Homo sapiens: one gene and its partners. The protein of the gene in region 3 purifies or fractionates together with the protein of the main gene of each other region. This does not show direct contact. Each region holds a gene or a part of one and is shown on either strand. Other genes may lie near its edges.

Region 1 (10,105 bases), on a different chromosome or scaffold from region 3:
CCAGCTACTCAGGAGACTGAGGCAAGAGAATGGCATTAACCCGGGAGGTGGAGCTTGCAGTGAGCCGAGATTGTGCCACTGCACTCCAGCCTGGGCGACACAGCGAGACTCCGTCTCAAAAAAAAAAAAAAAGAAAACAAAAACTGAAATGCTTATCTCAGAAGCATAAATTAAAGAGAAAAATCATCTCTAATCTACTGTTTCGGTCTTACCATTTTATAGTTTGGACCTAAGAGATCAGCAATCCTTAATAAATAAGGTTTCCCATGAGTTCTGGAGCTTCTCTGCCTCCTGTTCGCACCCTCCATGTCCATGTTTAACAACCTAATGCCAGCCAGGTGCAGTGGCTCATGGCTGTAATCCCAGCACTTTGGGAGGCCGAGGCTGGAGGATCACTTGAGCCTAGGAGTTTAAGACCAGCCTGGGCAACAGAACGAGACCCTGTCTCTACAACAAATAAAAAATAAAAAATCTAACTGGGCATGGTGGTGTGGTGGTGCACGCTTTTAGTCCCAGCTTCTTGGGAGGCTGAGGTAGGAGGATTCCTTGGGCCAGGGAGGTCAAGGCTTCAGCAAGCCATGATCATGCCACTGCACTCCAGTCTGGGTGACAGAGTGAGACCTTGTCTCAAAAAAAAAAAAAAAAACAAAACAAAAAAAAAACAACCTAATGCTGGATGGACACAGTGGCTCATGTCTGTAATCCTAGCACTTTGGGAGGCCGAGGCTGGAAGACTGCTTGAACACAAGAGTTCGGGACCAGCCTAGGCAAGAAAGCAATACCCCCATCTCTTTAGAAAAAAAAAAAAATGTGCCAGGCATGGTGGTACATGCTTGTAGTTCCAGCCACTATAGAGGCTGAGGAAGGAGGACCACTTGGGACCAGGAGTTTCAGGCTGCAGCGAGCTAGGATCAAGCCACTGCACTTCAGCCTGGGCAACAGAACAAGACCCTGTCTCTTACTAAAAAAATTTTAAAAAGTGAACCAAACGCTTAAGAAGCTAACTCGGTTAGGTTCCTAAGGGGCCTTTTCAAAATCAGATATAAAAGGGCTGATGCCAGGCCCTCCAGCACTGAGAAGTGTAGGCTAAACTACCTTTTCTAGGAACATCTTCCCTTATTCTAGAAGAATAGGAATAGAAAACAGTGGTTATTTTAGTGGTCAGGAAGAGCAACCAAGATCTCGCATGGAGGTGTGCTTAGGGGGAAAATGTTAAAATAATTGATTAGGAAAAAGAAAGTACGAGAATTGTCTGATATACCAAGGCAGGATGGTAGACAGAAGCAGTGAAATGGCTGATATTACACTAGAGGTTGTATCTGAACAAATAATCAGGGTTAGGTTCTATGACTTCTAATCTTGGCACTGCAATGGACCAGCCACACTGCCGTAAAATGGGGCTTAATATTTAGAAAATAAAGTTTAAGTACTCCAAAATTACTATGTCTTTTCCAAGACAATAAAGGCATAAAAGTCAGAAAATGAAACTAAAATATACTCACAATGAGTCTTAACTTTTACCTCTTTAAAACAGTTTAGCTCCTGGCCAGGCATGGTGGCTCACGCCTGTAATCCCAGCACTTTGAGAGGCCGAGGCGGGCTGATCACCTGAGGTCAGGAGTTCAAGAGCAGCCTGGCCAATAAGCTGAAACCCCATCTCTACAAAAAATACAAAAATTAGCTGGGCGTGGTGGCGGGCACCTGTAATCCCAGCTACTTGGGAGGCTGAGGCTGGAAAATCGCTTGAACCCAGGAGGCGGAGGTTGCAGTGAGCGGAGATAGTGACAAGAGTGAAACTCCATCTCAAAAAAAAAAAAAAAAAAACAGTTCAGCTCCTTTCTAAAGGAGGGTCTTTTCAATTCATTCATAAGTACTAGGTTGGGTTCCTTAGAGAAAACCTCCAGGCCACTTAATATTCACAAAACTAAAGTCCAAGACCCTTGTGCTCAGAATTTTTTTTTTGAGATGGATTCTCGCTTTGTCACCAGGCTGGAGGGCAGTGGCGCGATCTCAGCTCACAGCAACCCCTGCCTCCCGGTTCAAGCAATTCTCCTGCCTCAGCCTCCCGAGTAGCTGGGACTACAGGTGAGCGCCACCACTCCCAGCTAATTTTTGTATCTTTACTAGAGACGGGATTTCATCATGTTGGCCAGGATGGTCTTGATCTCTTGACCTTGTGATCCACCCGCCTCGGCCTCCCAAAGTGCTGGGATTACAGGCATGAGCCACACCACACCCAACCAGAAATTTTTAATACAGCAAAATTCTCACATCCAAATGAGGTTTTACCTAATTGTTACTTACAGTATCATAAACTATCAGCAATAATGAAAATAATAAGAGTTCTTCACCTTTCCTTCCTTCTTTGTCTCTGTAGAAGACCTCAATTTAACATCATAAATCATTTGGTCCTTGACGTATGGTAACTTCCAGGGAGACAGATGACATTTAGCACAGGACATGTAAGACTGTGGGAAAAGGGAAGTTCTTGGCCGCAAGAAATGGGACAAAACCCTTGCCTTTGGGAAAAATGCCAAAGATCTCTGAAGTCCACGCTAAAGCAGTTAAATTTTTAGCTTTAAAAGATTCCATTACAAAAATCCAAACCAGACTGGGCACAGTGGCTCATGCCTGTAATCCCAACACTTTGGGAGGCCGAGGCAGGAGGATTGCTTGAGCTTAGGAGTTCGTGACCAGCCTGGGCAACATGGTAAAACCCCCCTCTACAAAAAATATAACAAATTAGTCATGTGTGGTAGCATGCCTGTAGTCCCAGGAACCCGGGAGGCGAGGTGGAAGGATCACTTGATCCTGGGAGGCTGGGAGGTCGAGGCTGCAATGAGTTATGATCATGCCACTGCATTCCAGCCTGGGTGACAGAGTAAGATCCTGTCTCCAAAAAAAAAAGCAAAAACCACACCATACAATTAGAATAGGCTTTTAAAAACTACACTATAAAAATGCAAGATAATAATTTTCTGGAATTCATAAGAACCTGTACTAGGTGATGGTCCCCAGGGTGGATATGAATATTTTTTCCCCTTGTAATTGGCTTAAGCTAACATGGTTCTAAAATTTTTCGCTATTCAAAAACGATGAGGACGGGCACGGTAGCTCATGCCTGTAATCCCAGCACTCTGGGAGACCAAGGCAGGTTGATCACCTGAGGTCAGGAGTTTGAGACCAGCCTGGCCAACATGGCGAAACCCCGTCTCTACTAAAAATACAAAAATTAGCCAGGTATGGTGGCGGGCACCTGTAATCCCAGCTACTAGGGAGGCTGAGGCAGGAGAATTGCTTGAACCCGGGAGGCGGCGGTTGCAGTGAGCCGAGATCATGCCACTGCACTCTAGTCTAGGTGACAGAACAAGACTGTCTCAAAAAGAAAAAAACAAAAAACAATGATGAATATCATAATAATGGCTAACTTTTCTGACTACTTATTATATAAGCATTGGGCTAAGTGCTCTACATGCATCTCCTTATTAATCCTCACAACATTGTAAGGTCTAAATAACATAAACTTTAAGAATTTTCAAAAAAAGAAAAAACATAAAATTAAAATAAAAAAAGAAACAAAAATAATAATAATTTTCAGGCTGGGCGTGGTGGCTCACGCCTGTACTCCCAGCATTTTGGGAGGCCAAGGTGGGTAGACTGCTTGAGCCCTGGAGTTCAAGACCAGCCTGGGCAACATAGTGACACCTTATCTCTATTATTTAAAAAATGAAATAAAATAAATTGGTGGTGGCTCACGCTTGTAATCCCAGCACTTTGGGAGGCAGAGGCAGGTGGATCACGAGGTCAGGATATAGAGACCATCATGGCCAACATGGTGAAACCCCATCTCTACTAAAATATAAAAATTGGCCAGGCATGGTGGTGCATGCCAGCAGTCCCAGCTGCTTGGGAGGCTGAGGTAGGAGAATCGCTTGAACACAGGAGGTGGAGGTTGTGCCATTGTGCTCCAGCCTGGTGACAGAGCAAGACTCCGTCTCAAAAAACTAAATAAAAAATAAAAATAAAACTATTAACAGAAACATAAGTACTTTCGAAAACTACTCTATTATCCTATCAATCATCACTGGGATATCCATGCAAAACCAAAATACCCTGAACAGCTATAATTATACAGAATTTTAATCTAGTGAGAGTTCTAGTTAAGAGTCTTGGCAGGGTGAGATGGCTCACACCTGTAATCCCAGCACTTTGGGCTGCTGAGGCACGTGGATTACCTAAGGTCAAGAGTTCAAGACCAGCATGGGCAACATGGTGAAATCCCATCTCTACTAAAAATACAAAAATAAGCCAGGCGTGGTGGCAGGTGCCTGTAATCCCAGCTACTCGGGAGGCCAAGGCATGAGAATCGCTTGAACCCAGGAGGCAAAGGTTGCAGTGAGCTGAGATCGTGCCACTGCCCACAGCCTGGGCAACAAAGCAAGACTCCGTCTCAAAACACAATAACATAATGACAATGAAGATTAATACTTATATGTAGAAATTGTCCTTCACACTGCCAAACTGCCAGCCCATTAAGAAAGGCTTTTACGGCCAGGCATGGTGGCTCATGCCTGTAATCCGAGCACTTGGGGAGGCCAAGGCAGGCTGATCACTTGAGATCAGGAGTTGGAGACCAGACTAGCCAACATGGTGAAACCCCATCTCTACTAAAAAGAAAATACAAAAATTAGTCGGGTGTGATGGTGCATGCCTGTAGTCCCAGCTACTCGAGAGGCTGAGACAGGAGAATCGCTTGAACCCAGAAGGCGGAGGTTGCAGTGGGCTGAGACTGCGCTCCAGCCTGGGCGACAGAGCGAGACTCTGTCTCAAAAAAAAAGAAAAAAAGAAAGAAAGAAAAAGAAAGGCTTTCACAAGCCTTCTTGTGCAAAAGAACAAGAAGATATAAAGAAAATAAAATTTTATTGTAGTTGTGACCACACCTTGAAATGGAGAGTTGACAACTCTGTTTTAAGGAACAAATTTTTTTCCTATAGTAATTTCATCATAATTTCTTGCACAGAGTATACAGTATGTTTCCTCTGGCAATACACAGCTGAGTAAAGGTTTTCTGTATCTTTTCATCTGTACTTTTCAAACTATATTTTAAGAAGCATTAACAAAACCAAACACATATATCAATACCAAAACCCACAAAATTAGCTATTTTATACCCACTTAGGCACCTAAGTAAATTGGCTAATGGCTTCATGGGAAGTAATGTAGTGTAAAAGAGGAAACACTGGCAGTGAAGGCAGAAAACCTAGACCTGGGTGGAAATCATGGCTACATCACTTGTTAACTATGTGACCTTGGGCAATTTCCTTCTCTCAGTCTGAGTTTTCTTATTTGCAAAGTGAGGGTAGTAATTCCAATCTTGGGAGGGACGATTAATTGCATGTGAAATGCCCACCACAGAGCCTGACTGAAAGCAGGAGTTTAGAAAAGATACTGTTACGATTGTTATTCATATAAGCTCCTTAAAAGCAAAAACATCATATTTGTCCTCGTAGCCCAATTGTAGGCTTTATAATTATTGAGGAGCTGAAAAACAAGAAACACCAAAGTTACAAATGAGGATTTGTATCCGTTCAACACATGCCTAGACAGAAAATGAGACTAAGTAATCATGACTTTCAAAAACTATATCAATGCATACACAGCATATAAATCAAAGTATATATTGCCATTTGATGGGGAAAAAAATCAAAATATGTAATGTGCTTATTTTTAAGCCACTCTGAAAGAAGATGATGCTGCCTGTATACAAATCAAGAGTACAACTACTCTTCATTCATTCTGCAAGTATTTCCGTAAGTGCCAGTCATTATGTCAGTCATTATGCTAGGCAATGTGCATATGATGGGGAGCAAAAGCGAAAATAATCCCAACCCTCATAGAGCTTGCTTGCAGTCATGTAATCACACAAATAAGTGTTAACTTGTGATAAGTGATGTGAATGACAGGTAAATGGTGCTCTGAGAACCTATTAGGTTAGAATCTAATCTAACTGAAATCAAGGAAGGCCTTCCAAGGAGGTGAAACCTGAGAGCTGAAGGATGAAGAGGAGGTTAACAAAGGGGGGTGTTTCCAGATGGAGGAAAGCAGCTCCTGCAAAGACCCTGTAAGCAGGAGGAAACAAGGAAAGAAGGCAGGACTATAAGGCCAGTGTGCATGGAGCAGAGACAAGTGTGAGAACTAGCTAGGGCCTAGGCTGCTCAAGGGCCTAGATATATAGCCTACATTCAAAAGTTGCAATTTGATCTCAAGAGCAATGACAAGGCCTGTAATCCTAAGGCTTTGGGAGGCTGAGGCAGGAGGACGGCTTGAACCCAGGAGGTTGAGGCTGTAATGAGCCGTGATTACACCACTGGACTCCAGCCTGGGTGACAAAGTGAGATCCTGTCTCCACAAAAAAAAAAAAAAAAGGCAACCAGAAGCCACTAAAGAGTTTTATGAATGCTTCTTTGCGGGGCAGGCAGGCTGAGGGGAAGATGAAATCAGATTTTCAACAGGACTCTGGCTTCTGGATTCTGGAATATGGATGGACCAGGTGGGAAACAAAAGTCCTGTCAGGATAGGATAGTAGCTTCGAATAGGGTGATGGCAGTGATGGTGGAAGGAAGCCAATGAATTCAAGAGATATTCAGGAAAATCTAACACTGTATTGTACACAAGGGCAGAGGGACAGCAGTGTCCAAGACTTCTGGGTTTCTGATTCATATGACTGTACAGAAGGAGATACCACTCAGGAGGTATTCTGCTTCAGAAATATTTTTAAGGAGCCAGGCGCGGTGGCTCACGCCTGTAATCCCAGCACTTTGGGAGGCTGAGGTGGGTGAATTGCCTGAGGTCAGGAGTTCGAGACCAGCCTAGCTAATGTAGTGAAACCCCATCTCTACTAAAAATACAAAAACTTAGCTGGGTGTGGTGGCGGGCGCCTGTAATCCCAGCTACTAGGGTGGCTGAAGCAAGAGAATTGCTCGAACCCGGGAGGCAGAGGTTGCAATGAGCCAAGATCACGCCATTGCATTCCAGCCTGGGCAACAAGAGCAAAACTCTGTCTCAAAAAAAAAAAAAAAAAAAGAAAGAAAGAAAAGAAATATCTTTTTTTTTTTTTTTTTTTGAGACAGAGGAGACGGAGTCTCGCTCTGTCGGCGGGATCTCGGCTCACTGCAAGCTCCGCCTCCCGGGTTCACGCCATTCTCCTGCCTCAGCCTCCCGAGTAGCTGGGACTACAGGCGCCCGCCACGACGCCCGGCTAATTTTTTGTATTTTTAGTAGAGGCGGGGTTTCACTGTGTTAGCCAGGATGGTCTCGATCTCCTGACCTCATGATCCGCCCGCCTCTGCCTCCCAAAGTGCTGGGATTACAGGCGTGAGCCACCGCGCCCGGCCGAAAAGAAATATCTTTAAGGCTGTTCACACAGGCCAAAAAGGGCCTAACTGCACTACACTTTTGCATGAAAATGTGTAAACCGAATTTGATCCCCTACTTTAAATAAGGCTCTAAAAGATTTTTTGCTATTTACAGAAATCAAACTGACTCTCAAAAGTACAAGGATTTTCCTACACTGAAGAAATTTCAAAGATTCTGCCACAAGCTTCTAAATCAACTCCAAATAAATGTTAAATTGGTTTGAGCAATAGGGCAGCATTACGGAGTGAATGTGTCAGTTCCCATGAGGACCACTTTGATAAGGCTAACACTTATGTACTGCTGTTTAATTTTAATATTTTAAATAAATCTTAAGAGTACCCTTGGCTGGGCGCGGTGGTTCACGCCTGTAATCCCAGCACTTTGGGAGGCCAAGGCGGGTGGATCATGAGGTCAGGAGATCGAGACCATCCTGGCTAACATGGGGAAACCCCGTCTCTACTAAAAATATGAAAAATTAGCCAGGCGTGGTGGCGGGCGCCTGTAGTCCCAGCTACTCGGGAGGCTGAGACAGAAGAATGGCATGAACCCAGGAGGTGGAGCTTGCAGTGAGCCGAGATTGCGCCACTGCACTCCAGCCTGGGCAACAGAGCAAGACTCCATCTCAAAAAAAAAAAAAAAAAAAAAAAGAGTACTCTTGGCTGGGCACAGCGGCCCAGGCCTGTAATCCCAGCATTTTGGGAGGCCAAGGCGGGTGGATCACGAGGTCAAGAAATCGAGACCATCCTCCAACATGGTGAAACCCCGTCTCTAGTAAAAATACAAAACTTAGCTGGGCATGGTGGCACGCACGCCTGAAGTCACAGCTACTTGGGAGGCTGAGGCAGGAGAATCGCTTGAATCAGGGAGGCAGAGTTTGCAGTGAGCCGAGATCACAACGCTACACTTCAGCCTGGCAACAGAGCAAGACTCAGTTAAAAAACAAAAGGGTACTTCTGGCTGTGTGCAGTGGCTCACACCTGTGATCCCAACACTTTGGGAGGCCAAGGCGGGTGGATCACCTGAGGCCAGGAGTATGATGAGACTAGCCTGGCCAACACGGTGAAACCCCATCTCTACTAAAAATACAAAAATTAGCTGGGCATGGTGGGTACCTGTAATCCCAGATACTCAGGAGGCTGAGGCAGGAGAATCGCTTGAACCCGGCAGATGGAGGTTGCAGTGAGCCGAGATCACGCCATTGTACTCCAGTCTGGGCAACAAAACCCAAACTCCGGCCAGGCGCAGTAACTCACGACTGTAATCCCAGCACTTTTGGAGGACGAGGCGGGCAGATCATGAGGTCAGGAGTTCAAGACCAGCCTGGCCAACATGGTGAAACCCCGCGTCTACTAAAAATACAAAAATTAGCTGGGCATGGTGGCAGGCGCCTGTAATCCCAGCTGCTCGGGAGGCTGAGGCAGGAGAATCGTTTGAACCCTGGAGGCAGAGGTTGCAGTGAGCCAAGATCAGGCCACTGCACTCCAGCCTAGATGACAGGGCGAGGCTCTGTCTCAAAAAAACAAACAAACAAACAAAAAATCAAAACTCCATCTCAAAAAAAAAGAGAGTACTCTTATGTGATATTAAACTAAAATATGGTAACATTAGGCATTACCATAATTAGAACTATACTGCTTTTGTTTCAATATTTTGAAATGCTTGTAAAAAAATAATATTTTGTAGAAAAAAGAGATAAGATTTTAAAAACACACACACACACAATCTCTTGACTTTAATAAACATTTTGCCGTTTCCATCCTAGTCCTTGTTAATGCCCATCACATTCAATTCAGGGTAAAAGATAAGGTTTTTACTAGTTAAACACATCTGTATATATGTGTATGCACTATGTACAAAGTAAAGCCAATACCATGTCAATACTATCAATACTTTAATATTTACTTTTCCTGGTTTTAGTTTTCAAATTTGCAACGGATGCTATTTGCATAGAATACTGATGGCTTTAAGTCTTAAAAACAGAAATCTGACTGACCCAAGGAAAAGGATGAAAGAAAGAGATTTTGTCCCTTTAAAATCAGCCAACACATCCTATCTTAGTACTGAAGTACTTCCCAATTCTGGCAGAATGGGCTCCTTGGCCACCTGCTTGCACTAGGGTCTGACTAGCATTTTATTAACATCCAACTGCAGTTACCAGGACATTCATTACCACTGCTTGTACAAAGCAGAATTCTTTTTAAATTTTTTTCCCATACAGATTTCATCACCAGGTGTCAAAAGACAAAACCGTGGCCTGAGGCCAAATAGAAAAATGTCATCTCCACAAATAAGGAGAAAAGACAAGGACTTTAAAAAATCAGGTCAACAAGCCCATTAGCCAATAATAGTTTGTAAAACTGGACTGTCTTCACACTAGAGGCTGTGCTAGCAAATGTGGTCCTTGGAAACAAGAGCTGTAGAGCTTGAAATGGGTTGCCAGCATGGTTTGCCTTTTTCTTTTTTCATGTTTATTTTTATTTTTTTTATTTATAACATGGAATCAGACTATGACTATAATCGAGCATAGCTATGGCGGGGTATGGGCAGTGCCAAGGAAGAGACAGCGAAAAGCCCGTAGGGTTCCCAGTCTAAGCTAGCAGACCTTCCCATCTTCCTCAGGAGTGGTCCCTGTCTCCGCAGCTGGAATGTGCGGGAGGGAAAGTTACAAGGGCCCCCAAAATGAGACAGC
Region 2 (10,041 bases), about 17 Mb from region 3:
TTGGCCAGGCTGGTCTCGAACTCCTGACCTCAGGTAATCCGCCCATCTTGGCCAAAGTGCTGGGATTACAGGCTTGAGCCACTGCACCTGGCCAAATTTTATACTTTTTAAATTTTATAACCTATGTTGCCCAGGCTGGCAAACTCTGGGCTCAAGTGATTCTCCACCTCGGCCTCCCAAAGTGAGCCACCACACCCCACCTAGAATTATTTTGAAGGCTCTCTTCTTCCCCCACCACCAGGAAGGATTTTGGTCAAAGAATATAACTTAGGTAAAAAGAACTAGTAATGCCAAGGGAAAAGACAGTTGCAAAATTCCAGAGAATAGTAGATGCCTTCTATCTAAGGACATGTAAATACAGCCTTGGGATCTGTCATATGTCTGAATTTTGCTTTTAGGACAATCTCTCTGTGATAAATGAATCAAGAGTGAACACTGACCTTAGGAAGCAAAATTGAAATGTGCTGCTTTCTATTTTGGGGGTCATGAGAAATCCACTTTAAAATGGCCTCAAATACAGCATCTTCCTGTTTGACATTGAGCTCATCTTTCTCAATGATATCCTTAAGTTCAGTGACCGAGAGCTCTAAAAATTCTGCCGAGACTTTCACCATCTCCTCAAAGTTGTGCAGTATGAACATGTAGGCCTTCTGCCTCAGCTCAGGACAGTAGTAGTAGTCCGTGAACTTACAGATGCCGATACAATTATCCAAGCACAGCTCTGACTTGAGGAACTCGCAGCAACCCCTGACGATACCCATGATGTTAAACTGGTCTGCAGCAGCAAGCAGTTTCTCCACATTGTCCGGTGTGATAGGCACGGTCCGGGTGTATGCATACTCAATGATTAGCTTCATCATGTCGGGAGAAATGCCAGGGATGTTGTATACCTTCTTTTCAGTGTTGTTCCAGCCACTTGTAAACAAAGCTCTGGAAAAAAGAAAGAAACTAGCAGCCACGGAAACATTTCTCTCCTGTTAGGTGAGTACATTGGAAATGGTCTGAGAAAGTGGGGTGCAGGCATGTGCTATATACAGTGGACAAGAAGAACACCTTTCCAAGAACTCTGACTTTGGTCACTCTTACCTTGTGGATGGAGAAATTAAGATCTAGAACTGAGAGTAAGACCCAGGTCTCTTGGGCCAGGCGTGGTGGCTCACGCCTATAATCTCAGCACTTTGGGAGGCCGAAGCGGGTGGATCATGAGGTCAGGAGTTCAAGACCAGCCTGGCCAACGTGGTGAAACCCCGTCTCTACTAAAAATACAAAAATTAGCTGGGCATGGTGGCACATGCCTGTAGTCCCAGCTACTTGGGAGGCTGAGGCAGGAGAATCGCTTAAACCTGGGAGGCGGAGGTTGCAGTGAGCCAAGATCATGACACTACACTCCAGCCTGGGGGACACAGCGAGACTCTGTCTGAAAAAATAAAAATAAAATGGCCACTCACTGCTTTTTATCTTCCTTTTCTTATTTTCCCAGGCATTTATGATGATTTGATATGCATTTTACTCATTTAATGCCTGTTTCCCCATCCAGGGGGTAAACTTCATGAGAACAGGAATGCTTCTCTTTTTATTAATTGTTTTCTTTTCTTTTTTTCTTTTTTTTTTTGGAAACAGGGTCTTGCTCTGTCACCCAGGGTAGAGTGCAATGGCATGATCTTGGCTCACTGCAACCTCCAACTCCAGAGTGCAAGCAATTTTCCTGCCTCAGCCTCTTGAGTAGCTGGGATTATAGGTGTGTGCCACCACGCTCAACTGATTTTTGTATTTTTTAGTAGAGATGCGATTTCACCATGTTGGCCAGGCTGGTTTCATCATATTGGTCAGGCTTGTCTCGCACTCCTGACCTCAGGTGATCTGCCTGCCTCGGCCTCCCAAAGTGCTGGGATTACACGGGTGAGCCACCATGCCCGGCTTTTGCTTCCTTTTTTTAAGAAGTTTAAGGAAATGTGGTCTTAGAAATCAAATTCTTCCTCTAGAGCAGGGGTCTGCAAACCTATGGACTCTGTCCAAATTTGGCCCACCTCTTGTTTTCATGCTGCCCACAAATTAAGAATGATTTTTACATTTTAAATGGCTGGAGGAAAAAATCTTTTTTTTTTTTTTGAGATGGAGTCTCGCTCTGTCACCCAGGCTGGAGTGCAGTGGCTTGATCTTGGCTCAGTGCAACCTCTGCCTCCCAGGTTCAAGCAATTCTCTGCCTCAGCCTCCCGAGTAGCTGGGATTATAGGTGCCCACCACCATGCCCGGCTTTTTGTATTTATGCCCGGTTTTTTGTATTTTTAGTAGAAATGGGATTTCACCATCTTGGCCAGGCTGGTCTTGAATTCCTGATCTCATGATCCACCCACCTCAGCCTCCCAAATTATTGGGATTCCAGGCGTGAGCCACTGCGCCCCGCTGGTTGGGGGAAAAAATCAAAAGAATATTCTGTGACACCTGAAAATTATAATACATTTAAATTTCAGTGTCCATAAATAATCTTATTGGAATACAGCCACACCCATTCATTTAGTATTGTCTAAGGCTGCTTTTGCAGTATAAAAACAGAGTAGTTGCAACAGACTGTGTGGCCTGCAAAAACCTAAAACAATTACTATTTGGTCTATTTCTGGACTCAGCTGAGCGCGTTGGCTCACGCCTGTAATCCCAGCACTCTGGGAGGCTGAGGCAGGCGGATCACCTGAAGTCAGGAGTTCAAGACCAGCCTGGCCAACATAGTGAAACCTGTAACCCCAGCTACTCGGGAGGCTGAGGCAGGAGAATTGCTTGAACTTGGGAGGCAGAGGTTGCAGTGAGCAGAGATCATGCCATTGCATTCCAGCCTGGGTGACAAGAACAAAACTCCATTTCAAAAAAAAAAAGAAAAATTAGCCAGATGTGGTGGCACACAGCTGTAATCCCAGATATTCGGGAGGCTGAGGCAGGAGAATCGCTTGAACCTGAGAGGTGGAGGTTGCAGTGAGCTGAGATTGTGCCACTGCACTCCAGCCTGGGTGACAGAGCAAGACTCCATCTCAAAAAAATAAAAATAAAAAATAAATTGTGGACTCTGCTCTGTGGTCTACCTGAATGAGAAGTTTTAGCAACAGGTAGGACACATTGATCATATCTTCATTGGAATTGATTACTCAAACATTTTCAGCTCATGAACAAAATAGCCCTTCTACCTCCTGGGTTACAATGGTTTTAGCCCAAACTCCCTTTTTCTTCTGATATTTCCTGGGTATTTCCCCCTCATCTCCCTTCCCATCCCCTTAATCCTTGTTAATTTATCACCCTGTTTGAAATGGTCTCTATTGGGATAGGGGTACAGGGGGGTCCCTGAAGTGGCATTGTCATCTGAAATCCAGTAGGGATGTCCAACCTTCCCAAAGGTTGGTTTGGGTGAGAATCAAAGATTAAAGCACCTGGCCCACCAATAGTTGGTTGAAATCCAGTTGAAAAATCAGACCTTAAAGGCTGGGTGCAGTGGCTCATGCCTGTAATCCCAGCACTTTGGGAGACCAAGGTGGGTGGATCACGAAGTCAGGTGTTCGAGACCAGACTGACCAACATGGTGAAACCCCGTCTCTACTAAAAACACAAAAATTAGCTGGGCATGGTGGCGGGAGCCTGTAATTCCAGCTACTCGGGAGGCTGAGACAGAAGAATCGCTTGAGCCTGGGAGGCAGCGGTTGCAGTGAGCCGAGATCACGCCACTGCATTCCAGCCTGGGGGACAAAGCGAGACTCCATCTTAAAAAAAGAAAAATTGTATCTTGCCAGGCGCGGTGGCTAATGCCTGTAATCCTAGCACTTTGGGAGGTCAAGACGGGCAGATCACCTGAGGTCAGGAGTTTGAGACCAGCCTGAGCGACATGGCAAAACCCTGTCTCTACTAAAAATACAAAAATTAGCCGGGCGTGGTGTCAGGCGCCTGTAATCCCAGCTACTTGAGAGGCTGAGGTGGGAGAATGGATTGAACTGGGGAGGCGGAGTTTGCAGTGAGCCGAGATGGCGCCATTGCACTCCAGCCTGGGTAACAGAATGAGACTCATCTCAAAAAAAAAAGACAAAAATCAGATCTCTCAAGAGCAAAAGGAAAAAAAAAAACAAAACAAACAAAAAAAAAAAAGAGAGAAAAAAGGCCCTGACCCTAGTCATGCCTCTTCAGAAGGCAAAGGAGCCAGGCAGGAGCTCCTGCCTGGACCAGAGTTGGCCAGGCACAGTGGTAATCCCAGCACTTTGGGAGACTGAGGCAGGAGGATCGCTTTGGGCCAGGAGTTCAAGACCAGCCTGGGCAACATAGCGAGACTCCCTCTCTACAGAACATTTCAAAAGTAGCCGGACGTAGCAGCATGTGCCTGTAGACCTAGCTACTTGGGAGGCTGGAGTAGGTGGATTGTTTGAGCCCAGCAGTTGAAGGCTGCAGTGAGCTATGATTGCATCACTACACTCCAGCCTGGGTGAAAGAATGAGAGCTTATCTCTAAAAAAAAAATTTTTTTTTAATTTTTAAGGAGCCCAGAGCTTTGACAGTGTCCCTAAAGTTAAGGTGATGGGGTGGGAAACAGAAAATGGATCAAAGTGTCTCAAAATGAGCCCAATTACCCCTTTGGCTGAATTTGGCAACCCTGTTATACCTAAAGTAGGAACTGCAGCTACAGAGGATGTTCTTATGGGCACTGAACTCAAAGCCATTGACCTTGATGACCACGTCGCAGAGCTTGCCCTCTAGTCTAAGCTCGTTGAAGATCTCACAGGCCATCGCACTCATCTTCCTCTCCATGTGAGGCTGGTGGAAACGTGTGGAGGCCGCCGCGCTCTCCATCTCCATGGCACCCTGGGACAGCGGAGAGAGGCTGCTTTCCTAGGGTGTCGGGGAGGGTTGTGGGGGGCCCCTTTAGCCAGCTGTCGCTCCTTTTCCCTACTACATCTTTTGTATAGGGTCTATCAGGCAACCCAAGTTCCAGAATCCTGGCCCTGCAGTGAGATCACACAGGATTGTGCTCTCAGGTTCTGGAACTGCCTCCTGGACTTGTCCTCTTCCTTCTCCCCTCCTTACCACCCCACTTAGGCTGAAAACCACCTCACACCTCCTTCTGTGTCCTTGAACCCAAAACAGAACCATGACCACTAGCACCATCTGAGTGTTTATTGATTCCAGCTCCTGTTACTCACCTGATACAGGTCTCTATCCCTGGAGCATTCATCTACCTTCCACAGCCCAACACTTGGCTCCCTAGACACCGAACTCAAGGAAATCCAAGTCAATTGAGGCTGAAGGGAGAAGTAAAACTGATTAAATTTCTTTCTTAGGCCGGGCGCAGTGGCTCACACCTGTAATCCCAGCACGAGGTGGATGGATCACAAGGTCAAGAGATCAAGGCCATCCTGGCCAACATGGTGAAACCTCGTCTCTACTAAAAATACAAAAATTAGCTGGGCGTGGTGGCACATGCCTGTAGTCCCAGCTACTTGGGAGGCTGAGGCAGGAGAATCGCTTCAACCCAGGAGATGGAGGTTGTAGTGAGCCGAGATCGCTCCACTGCACTCCAGCCTGGCGACAGAGTGAGACTCCATCTCAAAAAAAAAATCTTTCTTTTTCTAGGGACGGGTCTCGCTCTCTCACCCAGGCTGGAGTGCAGTGGTGTGATCATAACTCACTACAGCCTCGACCTCCTGGGCTTAAGTGATCCTCCCACCTCAGCCTCCTGAATAGCTGGGATTACAAGTGCTCCGCACCGTGCCCAGCCAACGCTGATTACATTTCAGAAAGCTGTCCCGGGTCTCCCAGCCCGCTGGATGGGTTAGTCACTCAGTTTCTTCTGGAATGAGGAATGGCCTAGTTAACAGAGCCCTTTCTGGGTGATTAACAGAATTCAGTTTATGGCTCCTTCATCTCTCCTCCCATCCAGCCGTGTGGTTTTTCTGTTTTTGTTTCTGAGACAGGGTGTCATCTGTCACCCAGGGTGGAGTGCAGTGGTATGATCTCGGCCTACTGGAGCCTGGATCTCCCGGGCTCAAGTGATCCTCGTGCCTCAGCCTCCCGAGTAGCTGGGACTACAACAGGTGCGTGTCACCATGCCCGGCTAATTTTTGTATTTTTTGTAGAGACAGGGTTTCGTCATATTGCCCAGGCTGGTCTCGAACTCTTCGGCTCAAGCGATCATCCTGCCTCGGCCTCCCAAAGTCCTGGGATTACAGGTATGGGCCACCGCGCCCAGCCCCAGTCATGTTTTTGTCACAAACTTTCAGCCTGGAAATGACCACGTTTGGCAAGGCTTTTCCTCCACAAAGAGTGGCAGAACCCTACCTACCCACGTAACCCCAACACCTTGGGACCTTCACCCTGCTCTTCATAATAAATAGAACCCTCCTCCAGTTTGCCTAGCGCAACCGGCAAGCCCACCCGGATCGCGGCCATCTCCGGGACCGCTCGATTCTCGGCCCCACCCCCGCCCCGCCCCCGGCCCCACCAACCCCCGCCCGGGCTCCAGGCGGGAGGCGACGCCTGCGCAGTGCGGTCGCGGGGCTGTCGTTGTCCCGCGAGCCGCCGACCAGGCCTCGAACGGGATGGCAGAGGAGGTGAGGAGGGAGGAAGCGTCCGGAGTGGGGCGGGCCCGGACTCCGACCCCCGGGGCGCTTCGAGCCCCCCAGCTGGTCACCGAGGCACCGCCGCTTCACCCAGGCCAGTAGCCGCCCCCTCGCGCACCCCGGCCCCGCCTCACACGCGCGCCCGAGCGAGCCCCGGGCTCCCCTCGGGCCCAGCGTGGCGCAGGGGTCAGTGGTTCTCTCGGGTCTCGGGACAGGTGAGCACCCTGATGAAGGCCACGGTCCTGATGCGGCAGCCTGGGCGGGTGCAGGAGATCGTGGGCGCCCTCCGCAAGGGCGGCGGAGACCGGTTACAGGTACCTCTGGGGCGTGCGGGGGCCGGCCGGGCTGGGGGCGGCTGGAGAGGCTTCCTGCCCATTGGGCCTTCCCGCTTTGCTCTGCCGCGGACCCCTCCTAGCTCTCTGCCCCAAGAAATGGCCGGGAGCTTGAAGGAGAGCGGGTTGGTTCGCCTGTCCTAAAACCCAAATTTCAGATTTCTCAATATGGTCATGCTGCTTCCTCTAATTGGACAGAAGGCGCCCACACCAGTACCTAGGGCCTTATCCTCCCCAAGCCAGCGGCTCCCCAGTAAGTTGAAGATGTCCAGATGGGCCGTAATGGTAGAGATCTCTTAGGAGGGACCTGATATTGAAGGAGTCAGAGGGGTCCTGAGTATTCACCCTTGCCCCCACACTAGGAGACTGCGTTTTCCTCAGGGTTAACGGGTACTAATTAGGATCACTTCCCCTCTATCCCTCTGTGTCACTCGGTAACTCCCCTAGGGCTTTGCCTACATCCTGGCCACTGAGCTGTATTGATTTCCATAATCATCCCCCAGGCTGAGGCAGGGCCACACTAGAATTCTGGTGCCTATTTAGGCATCATCTCTCTTTTGCCTTATAGGTGATTTCTGATTTTGACATGACCTTGAGCAGGTTTGCATATAATGGAAAGCGATGCCCTTCTTCTTACAGTAAGTCACATTCTAGCTTCCCTTGTTGAGCTTGACAAGACGATGGGTTCTAAGGGACAAGTAAAAGGAGTTTTCTCTTTTTCCAGATATTCTGGATAATAGCAAGATCATCAGTGAGGAGTGTCGGAAAGAGGTGGGTTGCTCCCGTCCTTTGCTCAGAAATGGTTGTCATTTGCTACTTCAAATGGTTCCTGATTGGAACCAAAGATTCCAGTATAGAGACCTTAGAAAATTAATTTTTAAAAACTTGTTGTTTTGCTAAGGAGGGTCTAGTTTTAATACATTAAGACAGCTTTTCCTTACTGGCCAGGACATATGATGATTAATGGTTGGAACTGGACATTATATTTACTGTTGGCTATAGAGTTTACAAGAGATTTGAACATTCTGGAGGTTCAGCAACTTACCCAGGGTCATACAGCCAAATGGCAGAGCTTGTTTGTTTGTTTGTTTTGAGACAGGGTCTCACTCTATCACCCAGGCTGGAGTGCAATGGCTTGATCTTTGTTCACTGCAGCCTTGACCTCCTAGGCTCAAGTGATCCTCCTGCCTCAGCCCTACTGAGTAGCTGGAACTACAAGCATGTAACATTACACCTAGCTAATTTTAAAAATTTTTTGTAGAGATGGGGTCTCACTATGTTGCCTAGGTTGGTCTTGAACTCCTGAGCTCAAGCAATCCTCCTTCCTCAGCCTCCCCAAAGTGCTGGGCTTATAGGCATGAGCTACCACACCTGGCCTTTTTAAAAGAAAATTTATATTCTTCTGTTGGGTTCTAGTGTGTGTGTGTGTGTGTGTGTGTGTGTGTGTATTTTTTTTTTTGAGACAGAGTCTTGCTCTATGGCCCAGGCTGGAGTGGCATAATCTCAGCTCACTGCAACCTCGGTTCAAGCAATTCTCATGCCTCAGCCTCTCGAGTAGCTGGGATTACCAGCATGCATCACCATGCCCGGCTAATTTTTGTATTTTTAGTAGAGACGAGGTTTCTCCATGTTGGTCAGGCTGATCTCGAACTCCCAACCTCAGGTGATCCGCCCGCCTTGGCCTCCCAAAGTGCTGAGATTACAGGCATGAGCCATCTTGCCCAGCCTGATTTTTAGAGAAAGGTTCTCACTCCAAAAAAACACACAGATTGAGAATCTTAATACATTTCAGAAGTTTTCTGCCTTTGTTACTATGTCATCTTTCATTTAATCTTCTTTTGAACAGATGGACAGGGATTCCATTTGATCTTGTAATGTTCCTGAGAATCATGCATGTATTAAAATTCTTTACTTGGTCAATTCTCATTTTTACTAGGCACTGTTACGGACTGGCTCTGTGTAACACATGATCCCTGGAACAGCCCCTTTAGAGTGTCAAAGTCTTGGCACATAGAAGGAAACCTTAGAGGAAACACACATAGATGCTGTGCATTCACATGATATTGACACTTTTGACGGAATTGTCCACCAACATGCTGTGTCCCAAAGTACAGTCTTCTAGTTATATTTCATTTTTTTTGCCATATCTGTATATCACCTTTACTAAATCTTTCTCTAAATTGGCCTGCTTTTAAAAATTGTAATTAACTTATAAAGAAACAGGCCGGGTGTGGTGGTTCACGCCTGTAATCCCAGCATTTCTGGGAGGCTGAGGCGGGCAGATCGGTTGAGGTCAGGAGATCGAGACCAGCCTGGACAACATGGCAAAACCCTGTCTCTACTAAAAATACAAAAAATTAGCTGGGCGTAGTGGTGCCTGCCTGTAATCCCAGCTACTCGGGAGGCTGAGGCAGAAGAATTGCTCGAACCCGGGAGGCGGAGGTTGCAGTGAGCCGAGATTGCGCCACTGCACTCCAGCCTGGGCAACAGAGTGAGACTTGTCTCAAAAAAAAAAAAAATTGTACATGAAAATGAATCCAAAACTTCTGAGTTGAAAAGCGCTTCTCCATGAATTCCCTAAAGTTTTCTTACCTATCACCTGAGAAAGTGGACCACATTCTGGGAAACACAGCATTAAGTAAGTTCTTACTGGTTAAGCCCTGAAAATTGAGCTAATTAATAACAGCAAAAAAATCTTAGTACCCTTCTTCTCTGATAGTAAAATCTCATATTGCTGACTTTTAGACCTCACTCTCAGGGTGAGTACAAAGGAATGACCAGCTCTGTGGATCCAGGTGCTCCCTGGACTTCACCAAATGGGTAAAAATGTGAGTGTATTGAGCGATTATGTTGGAAGATAATATGAGAAGAGAAACTTAGGTCTTATAAATGACATGTCCCCAAAGGAAAACTTGAAGAAAATTTCATGTAACACTCTCTTAGATGAAGTTGCATCTTCTTTTTATTTGAGACACAGTTTTACTCTGTGGCCCAGGCTGGAGTGCAGTGGTGTGATCTCGTCTTGGCTCACTGCAACCTCCGCCTCCTGGGTTCAAACGATTCTCATTTTTCAGCCTCCTGAGTAGCTGGGATTAAAGGCGCATGCCACTACACCGGCTAATTTTTGTA
Region 3 (11,025 bases):
TGCAGTTTTGACCTCCCCGGCTCAAGCTATCCTCCTGCCTCAGCCTCCCAAGTAGCTAGGACCACAGGCATGTGCCACCACACTCAGCTAATTTTCCATTTTTAGTAGAGACGAGGTCTCACTATGTTGCCCAGGCAGGCCTCAAACTCCTGGGCTCAAGCAATCCTCCTGCCTCGGCCTCCCAAAGTGCTGGGATTATAGGCATGAGCCACTACCCCTAGCCATAAATCTACTTTCAAACATCTGACTTTCAAATATAGTCTCAGGAATGAATAACGCAGAAACTTCCTGTTTAACCTTATGACTGCAGTACAATTTGCAAAAGAAACACTTTTTCACATCAGAATAATTGCATACATTTATCAAGAAGGGATAATGAAGTAACACAAATAGTAAGCTAATTTTTGTTTAATGCACATACACACTTAAAATTAAGAGCACATATATATCTTATTTGGTTTCCTGACGATAGTACAAAATACTACTTTCATAATATGTTATTAAACCCACCCTTAAAAGGAGAACACTTTATTTTACCATAATTGTGTTTTTCCAACACCTGGTGCACCACAAATTTCTGTTGTTTTCATTAAGGGCACTCCACCCCCAAGAATATCATCTAGTGCTGAACAGAAGGTGATTATGAAGCCCTGGGTATGCTCCTGCTCAAGAAGTTCCAGTGCTGTACACTTCTTGTGTGACTCAGATGTACCAGCATATCTTGGTTTATTTGTGAGACATTCTCTTCTGATAATTTGCAGAGTTTCTAAGGCTTCTGCTTTAGATATCCCAACTTCTGAAAGTAAAATAAGAAAAAAAGAACCCTAATTTTAGAGATTTAAAAGTGTAACATGATAATCGATTGTCTTTATTAATTTGTAGACAACAGTGATGCTAGGAGTGGAGAAACATAAAAATGCAACATTCTATCAACCATTTAATTTTTCAGTTTGGCCGGACACAGTGGCTCATGCCTAAAATCCCAGTACTTTGGGAGGCTGAGGCAGCCAGATCACCTGAGGTCAGGAGTTGAAGACCAGCCTGGCCAACATGGTGAAACTCCGTCTCTACTAAAAATACAAAAATTAGCCGGGCATGGTGGCACGCGTTATAATTCCAGCTACTTGGGAGGCTGAGGCAGGACAATCACTTGAACCTGCACCACTGCACTCCAGCCTGGATCGCACCACTGCATTCCAGCCTGGATGACAGTGCGAGACTCCGTCTCAAAAAAAAAAAAAAAAAAATTCAGCTTAATAAAGGTATTCGTTTTCTTAGTCATCACATAAAGAATTACCTATTACCTCAGAAACAATTCAACTAAAGCATTTCTGAGTACCTACAAGTGTCTCAGGAAGCAGAAATAAAAATGTACTCACTATTACCATATTTTTACTATCCCTTTTGGTCTTATGAAGCCATAATTATCTCGCTCTCATAAGGTATACAAATTATTTTTCAGATGAGAATGAAAATAGATGTTTTAACTGCCTAAAACAAGGTACAACTTTAAGAAGCACATATGCATGTATTATTTATAATAAAAACTTTTCATGGAAATAACTGATGTAAAAAATTCATGTATCACTCCAAACTAATGAGAACAATTATTCAAGGCACAAGCATTTTAAAGAATACATTTATGCTTCCTCGACTACACAATTTCACCCATCTGACAGTGTGGCCTGAGAAAAGAAAATGGCAATTACAAAACAAGCTGGTGAAGAAATAATGGTGAGGATGACATCACTTATCAGTTTGATATATCAGTGCTTGATCTGATAAGAATATGAGCCATAAATATGGGGCTAATAAAAGACAATGGTGATGACAGCATTTAGGAAATGAAAATCCTATCAAGAGCCTGAATGCTGGAATTAGATTGCCTGGGTTTGTAAATCCTGGCACCACTTACTGCATGACTTTGGGCAAGTTACTTCACTTTTTCTTTTTTGCTCAGATTTTTTTCGTCTATAAAATGGGAATGAGACGATACATGTAAAAAGCTTGGTAGAATATCAAGACCATCTAAAGTAGTCAATAGTTGTTAGTGATCATTATTATTCAGGGTCTCACATTTCTTCTTTGAAAAGCCAACTTGTTGAAGAAAAAAGAGCCCATCAAATCTTGGGGGACACAGTCTGCGCGCGGTATGACTTAAACAGTTAAGGCTGGGTCCACGAGACTTATTCTTTAGAGGCGAATTGAAACCTCTGTATTTTCCATCAGTAAGGGCAGTAACTTAAAATTCTGTTCCATCTTCTTCAGTGAATAGCACAGGTCCAGACATGTCATAGAGAGATGTGCACAACAAGTGACCACCGCCAGCCTCATATTTGTATGTCTCAGGATGCAGTGGTTCCCATCTGCAATGCTCTGGAATATGAGGTTTTGGGTGTTTCAGTTAATTACGTAAGAGAATATTCTTTCTATGCTTCCTCAAGATTCCGGGGATTCTACTCTCTTTCTCATTCTTAGTGTCTCTAGTCCTACACAAAATCCTGCATTTCTGAAATTTAACCCTTACCCCTTGGATCTTGGAACAGCAAAAATTAGACAACCAATTCTGACTCCAGTATTTCCTAACCCAGTTAGCATGAAAAGTTACCTAAGCTCCCCAAGATATCAGTTCTCTCATCCATATACTGAATATAATAATCTACGTAAGCGGGTTGAGGGTTAAATGAGACAATCCTCAAAGCATTCAGCAGGCATTGCCAGAGGAAAAGCAATTAGTAAATGTTTTCACGACCACAGTTCTCCTAACCATTCAGACAACTTGTAAGTGGAGTCGAGGAGCTCTTTCACGCTGTAAACATGGACGTGGGAGGAAGCAGAATCTAACGGAGACTGGGCTGAAGGCCGAGGCGAGAGAACGAAGACTGAGGCGGCGCTGACGGCGGCCGGTGTGCCTCAGCTTGCCATCAGGAGTCGTTACCTTTGCTAAGCTCGGAGGGTTTCACCTCTAGGAGTTCCTCAGCAGTCTGGAACCCCGCAGACACCAGCTTCACCCGCACCGCTGGAGACAGCGGGAAACTCACCAAATCCCGCTGCATTTCAAAGCGGAACGTCTTCCCGCGCATCGCAGGCTCACCTGCTAACCCCGGAGCAGCCAAACTCCGCACGCCCTCGCTGGGGCGTGCGGCGTGACGTCAGACGTAAAGCGGAAGGGGCCGGCTCTGCGGCCTGGCCGCACGGGGCTCCGGGCCTTGCAGCTTTGCGCAGTCTTGTAAATTTTCACACTTATGCACCATTCCGTTTTGATTCCCCAAAATCCCATTTAGAGATTCCTCATCAAATGTACACCCTGACTGTAAAACGATGGACGGAGACCATAGGACGGAGAGCCAGGCCCAGTGGGTTCTCCACGCCACATTTCCTTGCCTCCACCGTGGCCTGTTAGGTGAAGCCTCAGAGTCATTAATAGGAATGATCTCGAGTGGGAGTAGTGAGCGTAACGGGCACACACTAGCCAGTTACCATTATTTTGGTGTGAAAAGCTCAGGGAACAATCATTAGAATTAATCTGCGTGCTCTTTGTAGAGTTGCAGTCTCTTGGCTCTTCCCGCTGACCGTCCCCCTTTTCTGACCCCCCCCCCCCGCAACGACCACATTGCTTTTCCCGCCCTCGCGAGGGATTGTGGGCCAGCCCCCAACGGCCGCTGGGAGGGATCAGTCCGCATTCCCCGCACCCACCCACGTCTTCCCGGGAGTCGTATCCCGAGCATGGAGGTTACTGAGACCGTTATTTCTTCATGGCCTGCCTAGCTTAAGCAGTAGCTGGAAAAGTAAGCAACTAATGTCCCCATTAGTGTGTCTGGGCTCCTGGGGTCCTGAGAAGGAGGGGCTGGGCTACACAAGAGCTCCTTTTGTGGTACAGACTTGGGAAGGGGTGTTCAAGCAGTGGTAGTGACCGCCTCTAAATTACAGAACTTCGGGGAGGAAGGCAAGCAGTTTAGAAGGTGGTTTATGAGTTCCTTCCTTGCCTAGGTGAGTGTAACTTATTTAGCAGGGGGTAACTTATTCCCTACCTATTGGCGATTTTTTTTTTTTTTTTTTTGAGACAGAGTCTCACTGTGTTGCCCATGATGGAGTGCAGTGGCACGATGTCGGCTCACTGCAACCTTCGCCTCCCGGGTTCAAGTGAGTCTCCTGCCTCAGCCTCTTGAGTACCTGGGATTACAGGCGCACGCCACCATGCCCGGCTAATTTTTGTATTATTATTAGAGAAGGGGTTTCACCATATTGGCCAGGCTGGTCTCGAACTCCTGACCTCGTGATCCGCCTGCCTCGGCCTCCCAAAATGCTGGGAGTACAGGCGTGAGCCACCGCGCCCGGCCCTGTTGGCAATGATTCTTAGTCTTGACTTTTCTTCCCAGCTTAGAAGAACTTTCTAAATATTGCAAATCAGAGCCCTCTACATACTTAGATCTAAAAAAGGAAACAACGTATGTTGAGCACTTTAGCAAATCCCACACATTTCAAATGGCCATAGCCATGCCAAAAGGAAGATAAGGACATGGAAGCTCAGCATATAGTTTAATATCAATTCTGATAAAAGAAAAAAAGCTGGCCGGGCGCAGTGGCTCGTGCCTGTAATCCCAGCACTTTGGGAGGTCGAGGCAGGTGGATCTCTTTGAGCTCATGAGTTTGAGACCAGCCTCGACAACATGGCGAAACACTGTCTGTACCAAAAGTACAAAAAATTAGCCGGGCATGGTGGCATGCACCGGTCGTCCCAGCTACTCAGAAGTCTGTGGTGGGAGGATCCCTTCAGCCTGGGAGTGAGCTATGATCACGCCACTGCACTCCAGCTTGGGTGATAGAGTGAAACCCTGTCTCAAACAAACAAAACACCTCAGCACAGTTTTCTTAAAGCCAAGATTCAAACCTAGCATCCTTTTTACTACCCCGAGCTATTAAGATTTTGAGTCCCTACTGGCGGGGAGAATACGAGAAGCATTTATACCCCATTTGGTAGGTCAAAGAAAGTCTTGTAGGACTGGCCAAAATGTGGTTGGCCACTCAACCCATTGCTTAACTTCTAATATGGTCTATATTTGAGCGCTCAGTGGATGCATAAATACTATCTTCAGGGAGATTTCATGCTTATGCTTATAAAGCACCCAGATTCTTGGGTGAAGAAAAAACATGGTATTACCACATTCAACAATAAGTCTTCAGTTAGTTTGGTCAAACTCAGTGGAATCAGTCGTGTTTAGAATTTCTTTCGTTGACAGTGGAAAGTTCAAAACTACTTTGGCCTGGCACAGTGGCTTAAGCCTGGAATCCAAGCACTTTGGGAGGCCAAAGAGGGCACATCGCTTGATCTCAGGAGTTTGAGACCAGCCTGGGCAACAGGGCAAAACCCCATCTCTACAAAAAATACAAAAATTAGCCAGCATGGTGGTACATGCCTCTAGTCCCAGCTACTTGGGAGGCTGAGGTGGGAGAACCAATTGAGCCCGGGAGGTTGAGGTTGCAGTGAGCTGAGATTGCGTAACTCCACTCCAATCTGGGCGACAGAGCGAGACTCCATCTCAAAAACAAAACAAAGCAAAATAAAAAAAACAAAAAAACCCCCACTCAACTCTATCTATAGCTGTATAATTTAAGTGCTATTAATATCTTCTGCAGATCACAAGGTCAGGAGATCGAGACCATCCTGGCTAACATGATGAAACCCCGTCTCTACTAAAAATACAAAAAATTAGCTGGGTGCGGTGGTGGGCGCCTGTAGTCCCAGCTACTCGGGAGGCTGAGGCAGGAGAATTGCATGAACCCAGGAGGCGGAGCTTGCAGTGAGCCTAGATCACGCCACCACATTCCAGCCTGGGCGACAGAGCGAGACTCCATCTCAGAAAAAAAAAAAAAAAAAATCTTCTGGCCCTTGCCTATAATAATTATTTTCATCATCATTCTTAAGATGTCTTTAATGCAATTTGCTCTGTAGTCATGCTTTCAAACTGGGATCCAGGTTTTTGAAACCACGCACTAGGAACTAAACAAAGCTATGGGATAAATATGGAAGGTGCACCTTCTTGTGTAATCACTTTTCTCAAAAAAAATCTTTCAGGGAGGGAAGAGTTAAATGATTTACCTAAGTCATTTGAAATGGTTTATATTAAGCAGACATTACATCTGTGTAGTGTGGATAAATCATTAAAATTTTTGAAAAAGAAAATAAACTTTAATAAAACATGGGGTAGGCCGGGCACGGTGGCTCACTCCTGTAATCCTAGCACTTTGGGAGGCCAAGGCGGGTGGATCATGAGGTCAAGAGATCAAGACCATCCTGGCCAACATGACGAAACCCTGTCTCTACTAAAAACACAAAAATTAGCTGGGCATGTTGATGTGTGCCTATAGTCCCAGCTACTTAGGAGGCTGAGGCAGGAGAATAGCTTGAACCCAGGAGGCAGAGGTTGCAGTGAGTGAGATCAGGCCACTGCACTCTAGCCTGGAAACAGAGAGAGACTCCCTCTAAAAATAAATAAATTAGCTGAGCGTGATGTCTCACGCCTGTTTCACAGCACTTTGGGAGGCCGAGGTGGGCGGATCACGAGATCAGGAGATAGACTATCCTGGCTAACACGGTGAAACCCCATCTCTACTAAAAATACAAAAAATTAGCCGGGTGTGGTGGCAGGCACCTGTAGTCCCAGCTACTTGGGAGGCTGAGGCAGGAGAATGGTGTGAACCCGGGAGGCAGAGCTTGCAGTGAGCCAAGATCATGCCACTGCACTCCAGCCTCTGTGACAGAGCGAGACTCCATCTCAAAAAAAAATATATGTATAGAAATAAAAACAAAATGTGGGGGTAAAATGCAAATATAAAAATAAAATTTAAGAGAAAAGTATGAGGTCAGAGACACATCAGGCTTAAACTGGATACTTCAGTAATCTCCCAAACCCCCCCCGGGAATATGTTTTGGTTTTTCTTGCAACTTGAGGTTACTTCATGAAAAAATTTGAGAGACATTGCTATGGGCAAACCAGCATGGGCTGCGGAGTCACACAGATTTGGATTTGTATCACATGTCTGGAAGTTACCAACTATGTGACCTTCAGCAAGTTACTCAGTCTCCTCACCTGCAAGTAGAAGATAATATCTCCTGGGGTTTTGGTCAAGATTAAATTAACACATATACAGTACTTATCACACAAAAAAGTACATAATAAATCTGAGTCTGTTTCTCAGTTTTTACAGCATTCTAATGCGCATATTCAGTTGGAATAAATCCTTATAGAATACCTAGCTCAGCAGAATGCTAATGCTGAGACGTTTTTTAAAAATGTTTACAATTAGGCCAGACACTGTGGCTCACACCTGTAATCCCATCACTTTAGGAGGCTGAGGCTGGCAGATCACTTGAGGTCAGGAGTTCAAGACCAGCCTGGGCGATGTGGTAAAACCCCGTCTCTACTAAAAATACAAAATTAACTGGGGGTGGTGGAGGGTACCTATAGTCCCAGCTATTTGGAAGGCTGAGGCAGGAGAATTGCTGGAACATGGGAGGCAGAGATTGCAGTGAGCCGATATTATGACACTGTACTCCAGCCTGGGCGACAAGAGGAAAACTCAGTCTCAAAAACAAAACAAAACAAAAAAAGTCTATAATTGTAAAAGTGCCGAAGTAGAGTACTTTTATATATTTTATTTTCTTTGACTTGATCCACAGTAATCCTATGACTGGGGTCTACATTCAGGATTAGCACTCTGAAGACTAGATCACTAAAACAAGATTAAATATTGATTAAATGCTAGTTATGTGCCAGATGACAGGGTAAACAAGATAGATTCTCTGCCCTCATGGAGCTTATAATCTATCAGGATCTTTATTGAGTATTTCTGACATGTTGCATTTCTGACTTGTGTAGCTATCTTGATGTAATTCTAAGGGTAGGAAGGACCTATTGCTGTTAATGTCTATAGTTAACCTGTCAGAGTATTCCAATAACGAGACATTTTCAGGTTGACTAGGCTGTTTCTGGAGACATAGGAGAGGAATAATATGAAATTTTTGTTATAGCTGGGGAGAAGTTTATTTTTTTTTTAGCCTAAGAACATAGAACTTTAAAAAATGGTGACCACGGCCGGGTGCAGTGGCTCACACCTGTAATCCCAGCATTTTGGGAGGCTTAGGTGGGTGGATCACTTGAGATGAGTTCAAGACCAGCCTGGCCAACATGGTGAAACCCTGTCTCTATTAAAAATACAAAACTTAGGCAGGTGTGGGTAGAGCACCCGATTCTGTTGCTGATCAGGGCACCACTCTGTAACCCGCACGGACCTATGGGCTGAACAAAGGAGGGCAAATGCGGGAATAAAAGACGAGACAAAAGAGTATATTTGGAAGAAGGGGTCAGGGGGTACCTTGCCTCTAGTGGACAAGGGCCCTGAGCTTTACACAGCCTTCTGTATTTATTAGGTAAAAGAGATAGTGAGAAGGGAGGTGGGAGAAGGGGTCAGCTGCTGAGTCCAGAGTAGGCTTGCAAGACCGCATTCTCTAGATGTCGCAGTGGATAACCTCAGTGCCAGGGAGTGATTGCCTCCAGCAAATCTTCTGTCAGCAGGAGCAGTCGTGAGTTTGCTCACATCCTGCATTCATGATTAACAGTTTGGTGTTTGATCATAGAGCCTCCAGTGGAATGCTGAGTTGGTCACATCCCATGGGCCTTCAGCTCCCTACAGGTGTGGTGGTGGGCATCTGTAATCCCAGCTACTCGGGAGACTGAGGCAGGAGAATCTCCTGAACCCCAAAGATGGAGGTTGCTGTGAGCTGAGATCCCTCCCCTGCGCTCTAGGGTGGGTGATTGAGCGAGACTGCATCTCAAAAAAAAAAAAAAAAAAAAAAAAAAAAAAGGTGACCTTTCATGTTCAAGTGGGTTTGGGAATAGGAGAAAGAAGTCAATGTTGTTCAGACTGAGGAGAAAAACCTCTGAATAAAGGCATAGCTTTAGAGGTGGTTATGATAAAGCTTCTTTAAGGCCTCAGACATATATACTAGCAGTATCAATTTTACAGGACCTTATACATAATAGAAGCCCAATATGTATTTGTTGTCCACGACTCTTTGAAACATTCTCTTACTTGGCTTTTTTAATGCCACACTTCTGATTTCCTTTCTACATATTTGGCTTTTCTGTTTGCTTTGCAAGCACATCCTCCATAACCTGGGCATGGCAGTGACTCTCAAATTTGTATTTCTAGCCCTGACCCTCTGCCGTCCAGATGCAAATATCTAATTGCCTACTGGACAATTCAAAGTCTCCTCCAACTCAGCCTAACTCATTACCTTCACCCCATTCCCAGAACCTTGCCCTCTTCCTGCATTTCCTGCCTCCATGAACCACATATCCATCCTTCCATTTGCATAAGCCATAAACCTAGAATCATCCTTGACACCTCCTTCCCTTTCACTCTGCATAATCATATCTCACTGCAACCTTGAACTCCTGGGCTCAAGAAAGAGATCCTTCTGCCTTTGCCTCCTAAGAAGCTGAGACTAACAGGCACATGCCACCGTGCCTAGCTAATTTTTAAAAATTTTTGTAAAGACAAGGTGTTGCCCAGACTGGTTTTGAACTCCTGGTCACAAGGACTCCTCGGCCTCCCAAAGTTCTGGGATTACAGGTGCGAGCCACCATGATCCTCCTGGCATGATCTTTTTACAGTACATTTCAGTTATGTCACTCCTTATTTTGATCTTTTTTTTTTTTTTTTTTTTGTGAGACAGAGTCTTGCCCTGTCGCCCAGGCTGGAGTGCGGTGGTGTGATCTCGGCTCACTGCAACCTCCACCTCCCATGTTCAGGCGATTGTCCTGCCTCAACCTCCTGAGTAGCTGGGATTACAGGTGCACACCACCACACCCAGCTAATTTTTGTATTTTTTTTAGTAGAGATGGTGTTTCACCATGTTGGCCAGGCTGATCTTGAACTCCTGACCTCAGGTGATCCACCCACCTCAGCCTCCCAAACTGCTGGGATTACAGGCATGAGGCACCGCACCTCGCCTTATTTTGCTCTTAGGATAAAGACCAAATTTCTTAATAAGGCTTAAAAAAAGCTTGCATGTTTTGGCCCCTGTTTTTCCTCTTTACCTTCTTCCTTTTCCTCTTTCCCATTTGCTTCCTATACTCCTGCTACTTTGGCCTTTTCTTAGTTCCTTGTGTGTGCTAGACCTCATCCCTCAACAGTGTTTGCATATGTCTATAATATTACCTCTCCCTCCTTCACCTAATTAACTACTATTTATCTGTCAAATCTGACATTCTTTTTTTTTTTTTTTGACACCGAGTCTTACTCTGCTGCCCAGGCTGGAGTGCGGTGGTGTGATCTCGGCTCACTGCAACCTCCACCTCCCACGTTCAAGCGATTGTCCTGCCTCAGCCTCCTGAGTAGCTGGGATTACAGGTGTGCACCACCACACTCAGCTAATTTTTGTATTTTTTTAGTAGAGACGGTGTTTCACCATGTTGGCCAGGCTGATCTTGAACTCCTGACCTCAGGTGATCCACCCACCTCGGCCTCCCAACGTGCTTCAAAACAGGTCCTTCAAAACTAGGCCAAATCTAATGTATTCAATTTTTGTATTCTGACTTTGGTAACATGTTTAGAAGGTCTATACAAAATTATAAATGGATTTTTCATTCGTATTATTTCTACATATGGTTTAGATCTACATTTGAATCTTTTTTAATTTTTAATTTTATTTTCTAACCATCCATTCCTTCAACATTTGACTATTTATATGATTTTTTGGGGGACTGAGTTTTGCTCTGTCACCTAGGCATGATTTCTGCTTGCTGCAACCTCTGTCTTGAGGGTTCAAGCAATTCTTATGCCACAGCCTCTTGAGTAGCTGAGATTACAGGTGTGAGACACCACGCCCAGCTAATTTTTGTATTTTTTAGTGGAGACAGGGTTTTGCCATATTGGCCAGGCTGATCTCGAACTCCTGACCTCAGGTGATCTGCCCACCTCTGCCTCCCTATTAATCTATATGAGTTTTTAAAAAATAAG

Evidence for each region.
Region 1: the proteins of RAD51C (region 3) and PTPN9 purify together in Homo sapiens (affinity purification with mass spectrometry; 2 studies listed by BioGRID and IntAct, with this or other methods). This does not show direct contact.
Region 2: the proteins of RAD51C (region 3) and KLHL10 purify together in Homo sapiens (affinity purification with mass spectrometry; 2 studies listed by BioGRID and IntAct, with this or other methods). This does not show direct contact.

The regions. Positions count from the first base shown.
Region 1 is NC_000015.10:75,567,879-75,577,983, forward strand, and holds part of PTPN9 (tyrosine-protein phosphatase non-receptor type 9), read right to left. Parts: intron 1-10,105. UniProt on the Homo sapiens protein: Protein-tyrosine phosphatase that could participate in the transfer of hydrophobic ligands or in functions of the Golgi apparatus.
Region 2 is NC_000017.11:41,832,712-41,842,752, reverse strand, and holds the start of KLHL10 (kelch-like protein 10), read right to left. Parts: upstream 4,929-10,041; 5' UTR 4,821-4,928; coding exon 4,627-4,820; intron 931-4,626; coding exon 441-930; intron 1-440. Other genes in the region: NT5C3B (7-methylguanosine phosphate-specific 5'-nucleotidase), read left to right, coding at 6,560-6,571, 6,796-6,894, 7,481-7,550, 7,637-7,683. UniProt on the Homo sapiens protein: May be a substrate-specific adapter of a CUL3-based E3 ubiquitin-protein ligase complex which mediates the ubiquitination and subsequent proteasomal degradation of target proteins during spermatogenesis.
Region 3 is NC_000017.11:58,684,702-58,695,726, reverse strand, and holds the start of RAD51C (DNA repair protein RAD51 homolog 3), read right to left. Parts: upstream 3,126-11,025; 5' UTR 3,084-3,125; coding exon 2,939-3,083; intron 2,931-2,938; exon of another isoform or gene 2,768-2,930; intron 797-2,767; coding exon 538-796; coding exon of another isoform or gene 534-537; exon of another isoform or gene 347-533; intron 1-346. UniProt on the Homo sapiens protein: Essential for the homologous recombination (HR) pathway of DNA repair. Involved in the homologous recombination repair (HRR) pathway of double-stranded DNA breaks arising during DNA replication or induced by DNA-damaging agents.